Regions from separate parts of the Homo sapiens genome. Here regions 1 and 2 are each linked to region 3. A link means that fine-mapping ties the variant in region 3 to the plasma level of a protein whose gene starts in the linked region. Region 3 holds a variant in brackets. A gene starts in each other region. All regions are shown on their forward strands.

Region 1 (5,222 bases), not on the chromosome of region 3:
TTGAGACGGAGCCTTGCTCTGTCGCCCAGGCTAGAGTGCAGTGGCGCGATCTCGGCTCACTGCAAGCTCCGCCTCCTGGGTTCACGCCATTCTCCTGCCTCAGCCTCCTGCGTAGCTGGGACTACAGGCGCCCGCCACCACGCCCGGCTAATTTTTTTGTATTTTTAGTAGAGACGGGGTTTCACCGTGTTAGCCAGGATGGTCTTGATCTCCTAACCTCATGATCTGCCCGTCTCAGCCTCCCAAAGTGCTGGGATTACAGGTGTGAGCCACCCCGCCCAGCCCCTTTTTTGTTTTTTTTTTTTAAGGCAGAGTCTTGCTCTGTCGCCCAGGCTGGAGTGCCATGGTGTGATCTTGGCTAACTGCAGTCTCTGCCTCCTGGGTTCAAGCGATTCTTGTGCCTCAGCCTCCTGAGTAGCTGGGATTACAGGCGCCCGCCACCATGCCTGGCTAATTTTTGTATTTTTAGTAGAGACAGGGTTTCACCATGTTGGCCAGACTGGGTCATCACCTTGTGTTCTTTTCCTCATAGAACTTGTCATAATTCCAGATCTTCTAATATGAGATTACTGATTTACTGTCAATCTCCTTCCACTGTGAAGGTGGAAACCTTTCTGCCTTGTTCCAGGCCATATCTCAATTCTAGAAGACCTAGCACATAGGTGATGTTCATAAATCTGTCATGAGGCCATGTGCAGTGGTTCAACCTGTAACCCCAGTGCTGCGGGATGGTGAGGCAAGTGAATCACTTGAGACCAGGAGTTTGAGACCAGCCTGGGCAACAACAGCGAGAGATCCCATCTCTACAAAAAGTAAAAATAAATTAGCCAGGCTTGGTGGTGGCGCACGCCTGTAGACCCAGCTACTCCGAAGGCTGAGGTGGGAGGATCGTTTGAGCTCCTGAGGCTTCAGTGAGCTATGATCACACCAGTACACTCCAGCCTCAGCAACAGAGTGAGACCTTTTCTCTTAAAAAAATGACTGTCCTGGTCTAGGGCTCATCGCCTCTTGCCTGGTCTACACCAGCCAACTCTCTGGTGTCCCCTGCCCCATTCTCTCAGTGATCCATCCAATCCACCCTGTAGACACAGTGACCTTTCCAACACTCATATCTGGTCAGGTCTTCTGTCCAAACTCTCCATCATACTCTAGCCCTAATCATATCTTTGTGGGTTCAACTCCCACCCCTCTCCTCCACAGCCCTATCACTCATCCAACGTGTGCCTATTGAGCGCCTACTATGCGCTGGGCACTTGGGACACATCAGAGAAAACAGATCCCAAATCCCTGATTTTTCCTGAGATGCTTACAATGAAGGAGCGTCAGATTCTCCCTGAATTGAACTTGCCCTTTCTTGCCTCACTGCCCCTGCAAATGTAGTTCCCATGTCTGGAATGCCACAGGCAGGTCCTCTACAGAATACCTTCCTTTCAGCCCCAGAGGCAGAGGAAAAGGGTTGTTGGGCCAGGCGTGGTGGCTCACCCCTGTAATCCCAGCACTTTGGGAGGCCAAGGCGGGTGGATCACCTGAGGTCAGGAATTTGAGACTAGCCTGACCAATATGGTGAAACCCCGTCTCCACTAAAAATACAAAAATTAGCCAGGCGTGGTGGGGGGCACCTGTAGTCCCAGCTACTCGGGGGGCTGAGACAGAACTGCTTAAACCCAGGAGGCGGATGTTGCAGTGAGCCGAAATTGAGCCACTGCACTCCAGCCTGGGCGACAGAGCGAGACCCCGTCTCAAAAAAAAGCCAAAAAAACAAAAAACAAAAGAAGGGAAAAGGGTTGTTGCCACTGCTTCTTCCTAGACGGGACCTGTCCTGATGCTTTCACACCTCACACCTCTCTCTTCCAGGAGGCTGAGTGCCCCTAGAGGGCAGGGACCCGTGAGTCCTCTCTGCATCCCAACAACAGCAAAGAGCCTAGCAATCAGGAGGGGAAACTGAACCCATGAATGTTTGAAGACCAAATAAATGCTCCCCTCCCCTCCCCCACAACTCAGACTCTACCAGGAAGCTTTCCATCTACTCACAAGAGTTCTGCCAGCTCCCCCACTTCCCCAACCAAGGCCAGGAGGAGATTCCGAGGCTGATGGAACTGTTCCCAGTCTCGTTCCGCAGCAAACTCAGCATGGAGGCGGCGGCTGAAATAGGACAAAGGAGTGTAAGTCCAAGTCTCCGGGTTAGAGGGTGATGCAGGGGCCAGAGGCAGCTACCCCCGTAGTATGTAATGGGGCCTGGGACCAGGAGATTCTGCAACTAATTCATTGGATGGTATTGTGCAGGTCATTTCCTCTTTCCGGAACTTGGTTCCCTCATCTATAAAATGGGCGTGCCCCTGAACTGCCCTTAACATCTCGCCAAAACTAACAAAACCCTCTTCATTATTCCATCTCCTGCTGCTACTTCTGCAGTTTCCTCCACCTGGAATCGCCGCACATCAAAATGCAATTTCTCTTACAGAAGGTAGTTCCACAGACCCTTCCTCTAAGAAGCCTTTCTTGACCTCCTCCAGCAAAAAATAACGTCTCCCACCTCTCAGCACTTCGTTTGCCCCTCTCGTACCCCCGGCGCCTGGAGAGCAGAGGCGGTATCTGGTGCCGGTATCTTCCCAGGGCTAGGCTGAAGGGCGTTCCTAGTTACCACTCGGAGGCACCACCCAATTTCCCTTGCCTCAGGTGTGCACCGCTGCGCCCATTTTGCAGATGAGGTAAGAAGGCTCACCCAGGGACAGCCCACAGAGCCAGGACCCGAGCCCCGCTGCCAGCCCGCTTCCCGACCACGTGGAGGAACCCTCCCCAAAACGCGGGAGAAAGGGGCGACTTCCCCACCCCGAGCTGGGCCAGGCCTGCTTACATGTCCTCGAGCGTGGGCTCCGGGCTGAAGCTGAACCGGCCGGGAGCAGCAGTGTCCTCTCCCCCCGTGTCCCCACGAATCTCCCCACCGGCCACAGACATGCCGCCCACCGCTGCACCGCGACTTCACGGAAAACCCACGAGCCACGCTCGAAGCCCCGCCTCCAGAGCTCCGACCAATTACGGGAGTTCTCTATTGCCTCACGGGGCGGAGCCTGAGGAAAGAGACCAATGACTTTTGTGGAGTTTGCTACAGCCCTCCCCTTCCCTCACTGGACCAATCTGAGGGAGCTTCAAGCGCGCGTTTCTAGTCTTAGGCCCTGGAATTCTTCCGCTAGGCCCTGTGTCTAAAGGTAGAGGTACCAATTCGACCTGGGGAAGAGACGAAGGGCAGAGGGTGGGGGAAGCGCAGGCGCGTCACTTCGTTTATGGGCGCCAGAGGGCGCCAAAGCGAAACGGCAGCGGAAGAGGGCCCGTCAGGTGGAAAACCCTATAAATGAAAGGCCCTATGCATAGGTATTAAATCAGGGCTTAAGGACGTTGAGAAACCTCGAGGCCAACCCCCACACTATTTGGATGGGATTGAAGGGGAAGAGCGGAGTAAGATCAGACGGCAGTAGGACTTCAGCTCCCCGCCATCGCTGTGTCCTGTGGTTGAAACGATGGAGGTCGCCCCATCCCTGTCCTAAGGGAGGCAGTAGGCCCCAGCGCAACGTACATTGCCCTGAAACACGTGGCCCCTTATGGTCTGGCCTGTGCCGGCCTCTCCAGCCTCATGGGTCCCCAGCACGGCTCCTCCACCCCACACACGAGAACTCCAGGCTCCACTCACACCAGGGAATACGCGAGGTGGCGAGTCACAGGGTTGCTGCTTTCAAATCAGAACCACTGAGTTATTGGCCATGGGAGGAGCAGAGATCTTTATGAAACCCTAGAACAGGTGTAGTCTTGCAAAGAATGATTTATTATTGTACCCTTATTAGGGCTACTATCTCTGATTTCCACGTTTAAAGAGGCTTCCAGCTTGCTGGAAGTGAAAGCGTAAGAAAGCGCAGGAAGAGGCAGAGTCAGATTTTGGAAATTAAAATCCCAAGGCTGTGACAATTGCAATTCTAGGTATATGCCCTAGAGAAATTAATGAATATGTGCAGAGAGACACATGCAAGAAGTTCATTACAGTTTTGTTTCTAAGAGTGAAAAAAATTGAAAATAAAATGACTATCAACGGAAGAATGGCTACATGGAAGTATATTTATACAAATGATATTATCCAGCAGTTAAGATTGGATACATGCAACAGAAACAAGTTTAAACTGCTTTTAGCAAGAAAAAGAAATCTATTATTTTTATTTTTTAAATTTTTTATAGAGACAGGGTTTCACCATGTTGCCTAAGCTGGTCTTGAACCAGGATTGCTGGATTGGGCTCTAGCAATCCTCCTGCCTTGGCCTCCCGAAGTGCTGGGATTACAGGCACGAGCCACCCCCACCGGCCACAAGGAATTTATTGTAAGGATACAAGAGTGTCTCCAGAATACAGTGGGACCTCAGGAATGAACTGGAACTGGGGTGGCTGTTTTAAGCATTTTACATATTTAATCCTCATAGCAACTAATTTAATCCTCACAAAAACCCTATATGGTAGGTAATATTGTTGTCATCCCCATTTTAAAGATAAGGAAACTGAGGCCGGGCGCGGTGGCTCACGCCTGTAATGCCAGCACTTTGGGAGGCCGAGGCGGGCGGATCACGAGGTCAGGAGATCGAGACCATCCTGGCTAACACGGTGAAACCCCGTCTGTACTAAAAATACAAAAAATTAGCTGGGTGTGGTGGCGGGCACCTGTAGTCCCAGCTACTCAGGAGGCTGAGGCAGGAGAATGGTGTGAACCTGGGAGGTGGAGCTTGCAGTGAGCCGAGATCGCGCCACTGTGCTTCAGCCTGGGCGAAAGAGCGAGACTCCGTCTCAAAAAAAAAAAAAAAAAAAAAAAAAAAAAGATAAGGAAACTGAGAGGTTAAATAACTTAACAGCTAGTAAAGTGGTAGAGCTGGCGTCAAATCCAGGCAGTTTGGCTTCACAGTCTGTTATTAGACCCTATGATGTATTGCCTGAAATGGCGATAAATATGAAAAAAATAAATGTAACTGTATTTTAAATACTATGAAAGGCTGGGCGTAGTGGCTCATGCTTGTAATCCTAGCACTTTGGGAGGCGGAGGTGGGCAGATCACTTGAGATCAGGAGTTTGAGACCAGCCTGGGCAACATGGTGAAACCCTTTCTCTATTAAAAATACAAACTTAGCTGGGTGTGGTGGTGCATGCTTGTAGTCCCAGCTGCTCAGGAGGCTGAGGCATGAGAATCACTTGAA
Region 2 (5,186 bases), not on the chromosome of region 3:
GAGAGACCATGCTCGGTGTGGGACAGCACCTGGCAAACAGTGGATTCTTTACACAATAGTTTCCTTCTCAGTTGGGTTGTTTGGTTTTTTTCCTGTAAATTTGTTTAAGTTCCTTATAGATGCTGGATATTAGACTTTTGCAGATGCATAGTTTGTAAAATTTTTCTCCCATTCTGTAGGTTGTCTGACATTACTGGGTATATACCCAAAGGAATATAAATTGTTCTATTATAAAGACACATGCCCATGTATGTTCATTGCAGCACTATTCACAAGAGCAAAGACATGGAATCAACCTAAATGCTCATCAATGAATGAGCATATATACGGTACATATACACCATGGAATACTATGCAGTCATAAAAAAGAATGAGATCATGTTCTTTGCAAAAACATGAATGGAGCTGGAGACCATTATCCTTAGCACACTAATGCAGGAACAGAAAACCAAATATCACAAGTTCTCACTTATAGGTGGGAGCTAAATGATGAGAGCACACAGACACATAGAGGGGAACAACACACACAGAGGCCTACCAGAGGGTGGAAGGCAGGAGGAGGGAGAGGATCAGAAAAAAATTACTATTGAGTACCAGGCTTAATACCTGGTTGGTGAAATCATCTGTACAACAAACTCCCATGACACAAGTTTGCACACATAACAAACCTGCACAAGTACCCCTGAACCTAGGAATTAAAAATAGTTTCCTTGCCTCCAAGTATGGAGCTAAACTACCTCTTCGTTTTTCTCTCGCTCGCTTTCTTCCCTTTCCCCTCCTCCTCCATCTTCCTTGCTTCTTTAGGTTTCCATTGAACAAGTCTCACTGAGCACCCGCTGCATGCCTGCATTATACTATACAGAGCCTGAGCGTATAGCCACAAACAGGCAAGGTCATTCCACAGAGAGCTGGCAGCCTCATACAGTAAAGCATGGAGTGCTTCATCTTCTCCAAAGGAGAAATCAGCACTCCTGCATCCCTGCCTCAGCCACCTTCTTTATAAAAGCCAGTTGGGTTTACTGCCAGGAATGGAAACCTCTTGCAGCTGAAGATAGGATTTTATGGGGGGGCTCTCTGTCCCCCAAAGCCTGAGGCAGGTCTGGGCCTATAGTCAGTGGCCTGTAAAAGAGCATTGTTTGAGTGAGTAAATGGGGAAGCTCTGGGTGTGGAGCGTCTTCTGAAACCCTGGGCCAGAGTGCTTCTCCTTCCCTCCTCCATCCAGTGTTCACCTCCCCCACCCATTCTTTCTAGGGACTCCCGGCTCCACCACGCTGCTAAAGACATATTCCTCCCCCTGTTGCTGCCTGCAACCTTCTCTCCATCTGCTCCCTCTGCCTGTTCAGGCTGCAGTGTGTAGATAGTATGGCAAGGTAGGGTAGGGGGAGGAGGACAGCTTCTAAATTGGGTGAGAGGCCTGTAAAGCCTGACCGGTCTGCCAAGGCTACGCAGGGAGAGACAGTCAGTCTCCAGGACTGTGCATAAGCTTGTCCCCACCTAGCTCTCTGCCAATGTCTGTCCCCAAGTATCTGTTTATCTCCCTCATTGATTGTCCCTCACTACCTCTATTTGTGGAGAAAAGACTTTGCTTGAGAATCAGGCCTGGGCAAGAATGCTGCAGAGGTGGGCCTTGTAGTCCTGCTCAGATAGGGAAGCGGGTACAGGAAGAGGCAAGCGGCTGACCTGAGAGGAAGCCTCGCAGCGCTAGTGCCCTGCCGGCAGTGGGGTTATGGGAGACAGGGCTCAGATTAAAAAGTGGAGGTGGATCTTAATTTAGAGTTCGTGATTGGGCTTCAGAGGGGTCCAGACCCCCTCGTGTTAGATGCACGATTTTGTGGCTATGTGTAGTGTTCTAGTAGATTCACAGCTGTCACCAGATCCACAGAGTTACAGACTTTCTAGGTTATGGGGACTCACTTTGGAAGCAGTGAGGCCCTGGCGGGGAAGCAGGCTGGCTGGATCCCAGAGGGCTCTGGAAAGAACTGGAACTGGGATGTATCTGGAAGGCTGGGCAGGCAATGGAAAGCTCCGGGCTGCTCATAAGCTCGGTTTCCAGGGCTCCATCTCACCGTCTGGAAAATGGTCCGGGTGCTCTCCAGCCTGGCCTGGCCAGGCAGAGCTGCTGGGAGCGTCAGCAGGGAGAGAAAACGCTCGGCTCCCAGGACGCAAGGGGAATTGGCGTTAAACTTTGCAGGGCCGACGGGCCGGCGGCCAGAGGAGGCGGCTGGCACCCCCGGCGCCGCCGCGGCCCCTCCAGCTCACTGCCCGCTCGCCCGCCCCCTCCCTCCCTGCACTCGCTCGGCACAGACTCGGCCCCAGCCCCCTCCCTCCTCCCGCTCGCTCCACGCTCGTTCGCTCGCTCGCCGGCTCCTCCTCACTCGCCCGCCCGCGCCCGGCGCAGCTCGGCCAGAGCGACCGCGGGGCTGAGCGCGCGTCCGCCCAGGGGGCTCCGGAAGCTGCCCCGGCCCGCGGCCTCCTCCCTCGCTCCCGCTTCCCCTTTCTCGCTCACCGCCGCCCTCCTTCCCCAGCTCCCTCGCCGTCCGCCCGCCCCACAGCCAGCGGCTCCGCGCCCCCTGCAGCCACGATGCCCGCGGCCCGGCCGCCCGCCGCGGGACTCCGCGGGATCTCGCTGTTCCTCGCTCTGCTCCTGGGGAGCCCGGCGGCAGCGCTGGAGCGAGGTAAGCGCCCCGAGGGGCGGGGCGGGCAGGGGGCAAAGTTGCCGGGAGAGCGGGGCAGCCAGGGGTCGGGGCTGACCAGGGCGACTCAGGCACCACCCGCCGGGATGGGAAGCGGTGGTGGCTGTCCAAAATCGGGGCTAGGAACCGCACGTCCCCTTGGCCCGGGCTGATGGGAGTGTGGAGGCGGGGATGTGTTGAAGGACTCGGGCGCTTCCCTGCTTCGGCTGCGGGCTCCCTTTCGGTCTTCCCCGGCTGCGGGGCTGATTCTCCTTTGCAGCCAAAGAGGTTCTCCTTGGAGTGGGGTCGCCTCCAAACCCCAAATTCCCGGCGCTTCTCTGCAACCGCACCCGGGGCTAGGTGCCAGATAATTATCTTCCTCTCCGGGAGAGGACAGGAAGGGGGGTGAGAAGCTGACCCACCCTGCAACTGAGGACTAGACTCAAACAGTGCATTTGCCGCTCCCCCCGACACCACAGAAACCCTTGACTCCTTTGGTTCAGGCTACCCCGAGGGTCTGTGTTCCTGGATCGATCTCAGCCAAGCGTCAGGATACCGGACTTGGGTGTGGCTTTCGCTAGAGGCCGGTGGAGGGGGCTGAGGGCTCTGAGAACTTGGTAGGGGAGGGAGAAGAGATGTTAGTTAGCAGTTGGGAACCTGAACGGGCTCCCCTCTACTCTCTCCCCTACTGCCTAGCATCTCTGATCACTGTTAGGAATGGGGGGTGAGGGGTGTTAGTTTCATCTACCACGTGTTTGTTGAAGGGGAAGAGGGGCCCAAATTTAGCAGAGAATGACAGCTCCTCTTTCTCAGACCTGGAACCATACCCTCTCTCCACCCCGGTAAGGTACCCCAGGAAAAGTTATGGGTGGGGGAGAGGGCCAGATAGAGAGAGGGGTGCAACGCCTAACTCACCCAAAGCTAACCCTCAGAGCTTCGGGGGTTTTCTCAGGCACCTAGGAGACCCGAAAATCAATGGGAGGGTTAGTTGGCCACAGGACCCGGCCTTCTTGCAAGGTCCCAGAAATGCGCTCCTCACGTGTAAAAAAGCAGACAGCTGCAGGGTCTGCCCAGGCTGAAGACAGAGGGAGCGCAGGCACTATGCTTATCTGGGGCTCCGCCTCTGTCATTTGCACCGTCTTGACTCGGAGTTGGGGGACAGGCGGTGTTCTTCTCCGGGGAGTTCTGGACCCCCAGCGCGCGCACCTGCTTTCAGCACCAAAGGCCCTGGACAGCTCTCAGCTCCATGGGCCCTGGCTCTGGGTCCCTTTCCCTTCAACCCTTCCCGGTGGCCTGGAGTGCCCCCCTCAGCATAAATCAGGCATTTTATCCCCCATCTCCCCGTCTTTTTAAATGTAGAGCCCAGAGTGCAGAGCAAAGGAAATTGTTCATCACCTTTTGTTTAACAAAGCATATCATTGAAGAACCCCCACCCCTTTTTTATGGGGCAATAATGTCCACAATTTACACCAGGTCTGGACAGTTTCTCTGGGAAAGATAGGGAAAGAGATTTGGTTTAAACAAATCGTTTCCACCACAGCATGGCCTTTCTTAATTAGCTGTCTCTTTCTAACAATGGCTTGGTGGCCTTGAACTGAGTCCAGCTCTCCCTCCCCCACCCCCTTTTGAATCTGTGTTGTGACTAACACACATATAAAAAGAACCTGAATCTACCCAGCAGCTTACTGGATTTTCTAAAGCAGTTCTACCTCTGAGAACTCCACTCTCCAATACACCACCTTGCAGGGAAAAAAAAATTGTCTTAATGGCACGTATTGAATTGTCATCTAAGACAAGGATTTCCTATTCTGTTTCCTTCACGGGCTGCAAACACATTGTAAGAGCAGGGGGAGACATGTGTGTGTTTTAATTTTTAAGACATTTCATACTATTTTTCCAACTGCTCAACACCATGGCTAGCCAGCATATTTTTTAAATTGACTTCAGGTCACCACCAAATTAAAGTCAATTGATGTGCTACTTCAGAAAGCTCATTAATAAGTGTGTGGTTCTGACTCTGAGTCATAAGGAGGGAGTGATACTGGCCAATGAGCATTGCCGAGTCTGATGGTGCATTTGGAGACAATTGACCTTCCACAATAAATTCTATTTTTAATGTAGAGCCCAACATCCACTAATGTCAGATGGAGAACCATTCACCTAACTCGTTGTTGCGAACTAGTTCTTCTGCTTGCGGTGAAGTGAGGGGATTTGTAAATACTCAAAAGGGACTTGTTGCTACATTCTGATGCAGGTCACGTGGTTCTCTGGGCCATTTCGCTGTAAGGCATGAATAAGTATAAAGTATAACTTGTTTTTGAAGAGCCTCCTTATTGTCTCAGATATGCACATGGGGAATAATTGTAACTACATGCAAAGACTGCAAAGCCTAAGAATAATTTCTTTTCTTTTTCTCTTGAATTAATAAGGCAAATTCAGTATTGCTCAATAAGGCTCAAATTTGCTGCTTCCCCAGTCTCTAACGTGTGTTGTGGTTAGATTCACTTAAAGACT
Region 3 (5,222 bases):
GTGTGTGTGTGTGTGTGTGTGTGTGTATTTTAGTCTGCCTATGCTTCTTTGTCCTTCTTGGATTTGTGGTTTGATAACTTCCATTATTTTTGAAAAATTGTTGGCCATTTTCTCTTTAAATGTTTCCTCTCTCCCATTCTTTCTCTATTCTCTGGGATTTCAATTACATATATGTTAGGCCAGTTTACATTGTCCCACAGTTCTTGGGTGTTCTGTTCTATTTTCTTTTTTTTTATTCCTTGAATTTCAGTTTGGGTAATTTCTATGAACCCATTTTCAAAGTACTGATTTTTTTTTTCTCAGCTGTATGGCATCTACTGATGACCCTGCCTAATACATTCTTCTTCTCTTTTACTCTGTTTCAAAATTTGCTAATATTTCCATTTGACTCTTCGTATAGTTTCTATCTTTCTGCTGAAATTCCCCATCTGTTTATGTATGTTGTCTACCTTTTCCACTAGAGCCTTTAACATGTTAAATATGGTTGTAATTAATGGTTTGATTTTAAAATTCCCTATTTGATAGTACCAACATCTGAATCATCTTTTAGCAGTTTCTATTGCTTGCATTGTCTGTTGACAGGATTTTTAAACCTTGCTTTTCTGTGTTGGCTCATTGTTTTTATTGAATTCTGGACATTATATGTGGGACAGTAGGAACTGAGGTAAATTGCATTTATGATTAGAAATGAGAACCCGTCTTATTCTGGTAAGCTCTTAGTGTGGGCCAATCTAGTCAAGAGTTGAGCTGGGTTCGGGTTTTATTATTGCCATAGTTACCTTCAAATTCTTCTAGTGTTATCTTGTGCTTGGGTGGAGGCAGCATTTCAGTAGACCAAGAGCCGCCGGTACTCCTGGATGGTATTTTCTCAATTTTCCTGCACTACCCCAACTTTAGGACTTTCTAAAGTATGTGCCTGCACCTCAGAGATTCTCTCTTCAGTGGCAGAGTACTTTTGCTTCTTATTCAGTACTTGCTAGCCTGGGAGGTAGGGCAGAGATTTATCCATTGTGAAATTGCCTTTGCAGAATATATATATATAAATAAGGAGAGAAATCTGGCTGGGCGTGGTGGCTCATGTTTGTAATCCCAGCACTTTGGGAAGCTGAGGCAGGTGGATCACCTGAGGTCAGAAGTTCGAGACCAGCCTGGCCAAGATGGTGAAATCCAGTCTCTACTAAAACTACAAAATTAGCTGGGAGTGGCGGCAGGCGCCTGTAATCCCAGTTACTTGGGAGGCTGAGGCAGGTGGAGAATTGCTTGAACCAGGGAGGCAGAGTTTGCAGTGAGCCAAGATCCCACCACTGCACTCCAGCCTGGGTGACAGAGCAAGACTCCATCTCAATAAATAAATAAATAAATAAATAAAAATAAAAAATAAACGAATAAAGAGAGAAATCTAACATGACTGACTCCATCCTGCTTCTAACCCACAGGCGAGTTTTTTTTTTCTTATTCTAGCATGGAGGTCAAAATAGCTATGAGTGACGTTTATAGTTAAACTTTGAGTCAAGGGAAACTGAACTCCCTCCTTGTTCAAGATTGAAACTGCATTCATAAGACAAGGTTAAAATACGGTAGGGACTTTAACTTTGCTGAAGAATAGACTCAGTTAAACAATGACCTGCCATTGCTTAGTGTGTCTTCCTCACTTCCTTGCTTTCCATGTGTCCTTACAGTAGCATGTTGCTTACTGCACCAGAGTCACGTAACCGGGGATTGCAAAATTTATAACTTCCCCAACTACTCCTATAGATAACATCACTATTGTGAACCCTGAAGAACGAGTCTTCGAGGTATTTTTCAGATTCAACATTTCAGTAGACCAAGAGACGCCACTAGGTCCTGAGATCCACCCACTCCTGGGAACTGACTTGGCTGCGTGAAGACAGCTTTAGACACCCCTGTAATTTCATCCCCAGCCAATCGATTGTTCCAGTTTCCAAGCCTCCTGCCCACCAAAGTACCCATGAAAAACCCTAGTCTCTGAATTGTCAGGGAGATGTGTTTGAGAAATTGCTGCTTGCTCTCTTCACATGGCTGGCCCTGTGATTATTAAACTCTTTCTTTGCTGCAATAGCCGCTGTTCTTGTTGATTTTTTCAGGGCAGTGGCTAAGAAGAACGTGTGGGGCTGTGACAGCTGTTCTAGTCCCGCCTCAGTTTTAGTCGGGCCTTCTGTCCCTGGATCTTGAGGATAGGGCTTTTTCAGTGATCCTAGATCTCACTCA[A/G]TGGTAGAAGACCTGTAATCATCTAGGCTTGGGATGGTTTCCAGCCCCTTCCCCAAGGGTAGAGAGTTGTTTTTTGTTGTTGTTGTTGTTGTTGTTTTTTCCTGTTCCTTTCCTCCAGGTGTAATGGGCTCTTTTCCTCTGCTCTGTGCCCTGGGCCCTTATTCTAGTGATTTAAGACATTTGTTCCTTAGAAAAAAGGATTCAGGTGGGCTTCATGCCTTTCCCAGAATGATGGCTGCTCCATTACCTAGGTATGTATTCCCTGGCCACAAGCTTTTCATGAGCTCTGGTGGAGGCCCATGAAGATGCTTCAAATGCGTAGGAATGGCCCTTGTATCATGAGCTCTCAGTTCTTGGCCACATCTGGCTTTCAGCGATTTATTAAAAATTTTAGCTGAATTCTTCTAACCCATTTGAATGGTAGCCCTGCCTTCCTTCCACGCTGTCTTACAGGTGAGCCTGTGCTCATATCCTAGCCCTCTTTAGAAACACCTGTCTTTTCTTAGATTTCAGGGTACTTGGTTGCCTCACTACCTCAGCACTCTGACGGGTTCAAGAAAAGTTATCACTTTGTGTATTATCTGTTTTTTTTCAGGTGTTTCTAATTAATACAGGTTTTTTTGGGGGGGTGTTTCTAATGAAAACATTTTAATGAGGCTGGTTTTCACAGCTGTTTTTATACCACAAATCAAAATGGCCAAGTCCAAAATGAAAAATCACCAGAATGGCAGGGCATAATGAATTTAAGCACAGAAATTAGATGAAGTTATCTGTTTCTCACATGACTTGATAATCTAAAAAGCAGAAAGTAAAATGGTATGTTTTAAAAGTTATCATCAAAAGTGTCCTTGAGGTCGGCACTGACTGTGTCCTGATGGCCATGCAGGCAGGAGTTGTGCTATGTAGGTAGGCTCTGCTATTTGCTCTTCACACGTCTGGTTAGTTTACAATCTCTCCTTGTTCTAAGTTTTCACCAAAGCCTGATACTGGCTTTTGTTTCCCTTGAGGCTATGTTGTTTCTCATATAAACATGATTTCCATTTTATGACTGTCCTAACCCTTCATGGTGCAAGCCTGTTTCTCTGAGCTACTATATTCTTCATATATTTATGTTATTACTTCTTACTATTCAGAAGTACCTTAATATTCAGAACTACCCTTCAAATTGGAGGGCTCTTTTCTGACCATATTCTCAGCTGTTGGACAGGGGACAGGGACCGATCATGCTGGGTGGTTGGAAAAGCCTATGGGAGGCCAAGTAGGGGAGACCTACTGCCAGGACTATCACTCCAAGCTCGATTCTTGGGCCTTCCACCTTCACATTCTAGAGGAAAGCATATTGCCACTCATCCAAGTTGTGTGCTGTGATTGCTAGTGAAATCTGATCAGCTCCGGGGGCTCTCAGCTCTTGGCTGTCAATGCAGGGTGATAGTGGGCTACAGGGGGAGGAGGTAAAGAAGAGAGATTATGCAGATATGTCTGAAATCACAATCTTTCTGATTAGATATTTTGGCTCTATAATCAATTGTTTCTTCTAACACTCACACTTTTCCTCAATTTTTATTTATTTATTTATTTATTTATTTTGAGACTGAGTCGCTTACTCTGTCACCCAGGCAGGAGTGCAATGGCGTGATCTCGGCTCACTACAACCTCCACCTCCCGGGTTCAAGCAATTCTCCTGTCTCAGCCTTCCAAATAGTTGGGATTACAGGCACGTGCCACAACCCCTGGCTAATTTTTTGTATTTTTAGTAGAGATGGGGTTTCACCATGTTTGCCAGGCTGGTCTCAAACTCCTGAGCTGAGGTGATCCACCTGCCTCGGCCTCCCAAAGTGCTGGGATTACAGGCATCAGGCATCGTGCCCAGCCTCAATTTTTAATTCTACGACTTTCTGCTCTAATTCAGGTGAAGCACAGGATAGGTTTGTATTGTTTTTATATCTGTCTCCTGCAAATATCCTATCTTTCCCATTGTAATGAGGGTTCCTCAGGACAGAGACCACTGTTCTTCTCATTTCTTCATTTCTTCCTCCCATCCATCCCCACCCCATCTTTCTTACCTAGCAGAGTCAACATTGGGTTAGAGCACTGCATATGGGTTGAGTAAATCAGTCACTAGTTGATCCCCATGAGTTATTGCTTTCCTGCTCAGAATTTGTTGCTATTGCCACTCTCAGTATCATTTCCCTCCAGTGATTCCTGAAGACCTCATTTTACTTCTGTAATTCTGCCAGGGACCAAGTTAACTGCAGCCTGCTCTTCTGCTCCAGTCACAGTAAACTCTTCTCCTAGGGTCTCTACTGAGACTGGAGGCCACAGGAAAGAACAGATGCTGAGCAGGAACCTCCACTGTCCTCTCGTACAAAATACTTTTCCCAGTTTCTAGAACGATAAACCGCGACCCGATTGAAGGGCTTTTCCATAAGACTACTCAACCAGCAGCAATACTTACCTTCATATTTGCAACTTTACTGAAATACCTTGGTCAGAGGAGATCTCCTTTTAATTTTTATTGTGTATTTATTTAGTAGAGGCAGAGATCTCCTTTATTTACATTCCAATCACTTTTAGGATCTGTCCTGCCTTATCAATCTGCCAATAAATGCACAAAGAGAAATGGATGATGGGAACTTGATGGTGGCAAGATTTGTTTCTTTTTTCTTTTTTCTTTTTTCTTTTTTGACAGAGTCTTGCTTTGCTGCCCAGGCTGGAGTGCAGTGGCATGATCTTGGCTCACTGCAACCTCCACCTCCTGGGTTCAAGCAATTCTCCTGCCTCAGCCTCCCAAGTAGCTGCGATTACAGGTGTGTGACACCACAGCTGGCTAATTTTTACATTTTTAGTAGAGATGGGGTTTTACTATGCTGGTCAGACTGGTCTCGAACTCCTGACTTCAAGTGATCTGGCTGCCTCAGCCTCCCAAAGTGTTGGGATTACAGGCGTGAGCCACCATGCCTGGCTGACACGATTTGTTTCAAACTGGCCCTGGA

Direction of the effects. Positions count from the first base shown, and alleles are read on the strand shown. Strength reflects both the effect of a copy and how common the allele is.
In carriers of allele G in region 3, the plasma level of the protein whose gene starts at base 3,005 in region 1 tends to be higher than with A alone (weak association).
For the plasma level of the protein whose gene starts at base 2,374 in region 2, allele A in region 3 goes with a lower level than allele G (weak association).

What was found. A credible set is the group of variants that fine-mapping cannot tell apart. PIP is the chance, under the fine-mapping model, that this variant and not a neighbour inherited with it causes the effect. Protein levels are from antibody-based Olink assays in UK Biobank. Linkage for the fine-mapping came from a reference panel and not from the study's own genotypes, which makes the PIPs less certain.
Region 1: DCTPP1 starts here. The variant in region 3 is the best candidate, but not a certain one, in a credible set for the plasma level of the DCTPP1 protein (UK Biobank, PIP 0.84).
Region 2: SEZ6L starts here. The variant in region 3 is the best candidate, but not a certain one, in a credible set for the plasma level of the SEZ6L protein (UK Biobank, PIP 0.68).

What each region holds. Positions count from the first base shown.
Region 1 is chr16:30,427,026-30,432,247 of GRCh38, forward strand. It overlaps DCTPP1 (dCTP pyrophosphatase 1), which reads right to left and starts at 3,005. Exons shown (of 3, transcript NM_024096.2): 1 at 2,855-3,005; 2 at 2,032-2,142. The coding sequence starts at 2,955. RefSeq lists enhancers at 1,108-1,608, 1,609-2,109, 2,863-2,942, 3,343-3,452.
Region 2 is chr22:26,167,089-26,172,274 of GRCh38, forward strand. It overlaps SEZ6L (seizure related 6 homolog like), which reads left to right and starts at 2,374. Exons shown (of 17, transcript NM_021115.5): 1 at 2,374-2,675. The coding sequence starts at 2,582. It overlaps LOC105372971 (a long non-coding RNA gene), which reads right to left and starts at 2,146. Exons shown (of 6, transcript NR_188586.1): 1 at 1,915-2,146. RefSeq lists a silencer at 2,397-2,526 and an enhancer at 3,353-4,292.
Region 3 is chr1:161,570,216-161,575,437 of GRCh38, forward strand. No RefSeq gene overlaps it. Among named protein-coding and RNA genes, the nearest start is that of FCGR3A, 23 kb to the left of the region's middle. The variant A/G (reference allele first, on the strand shown) is at 2,230.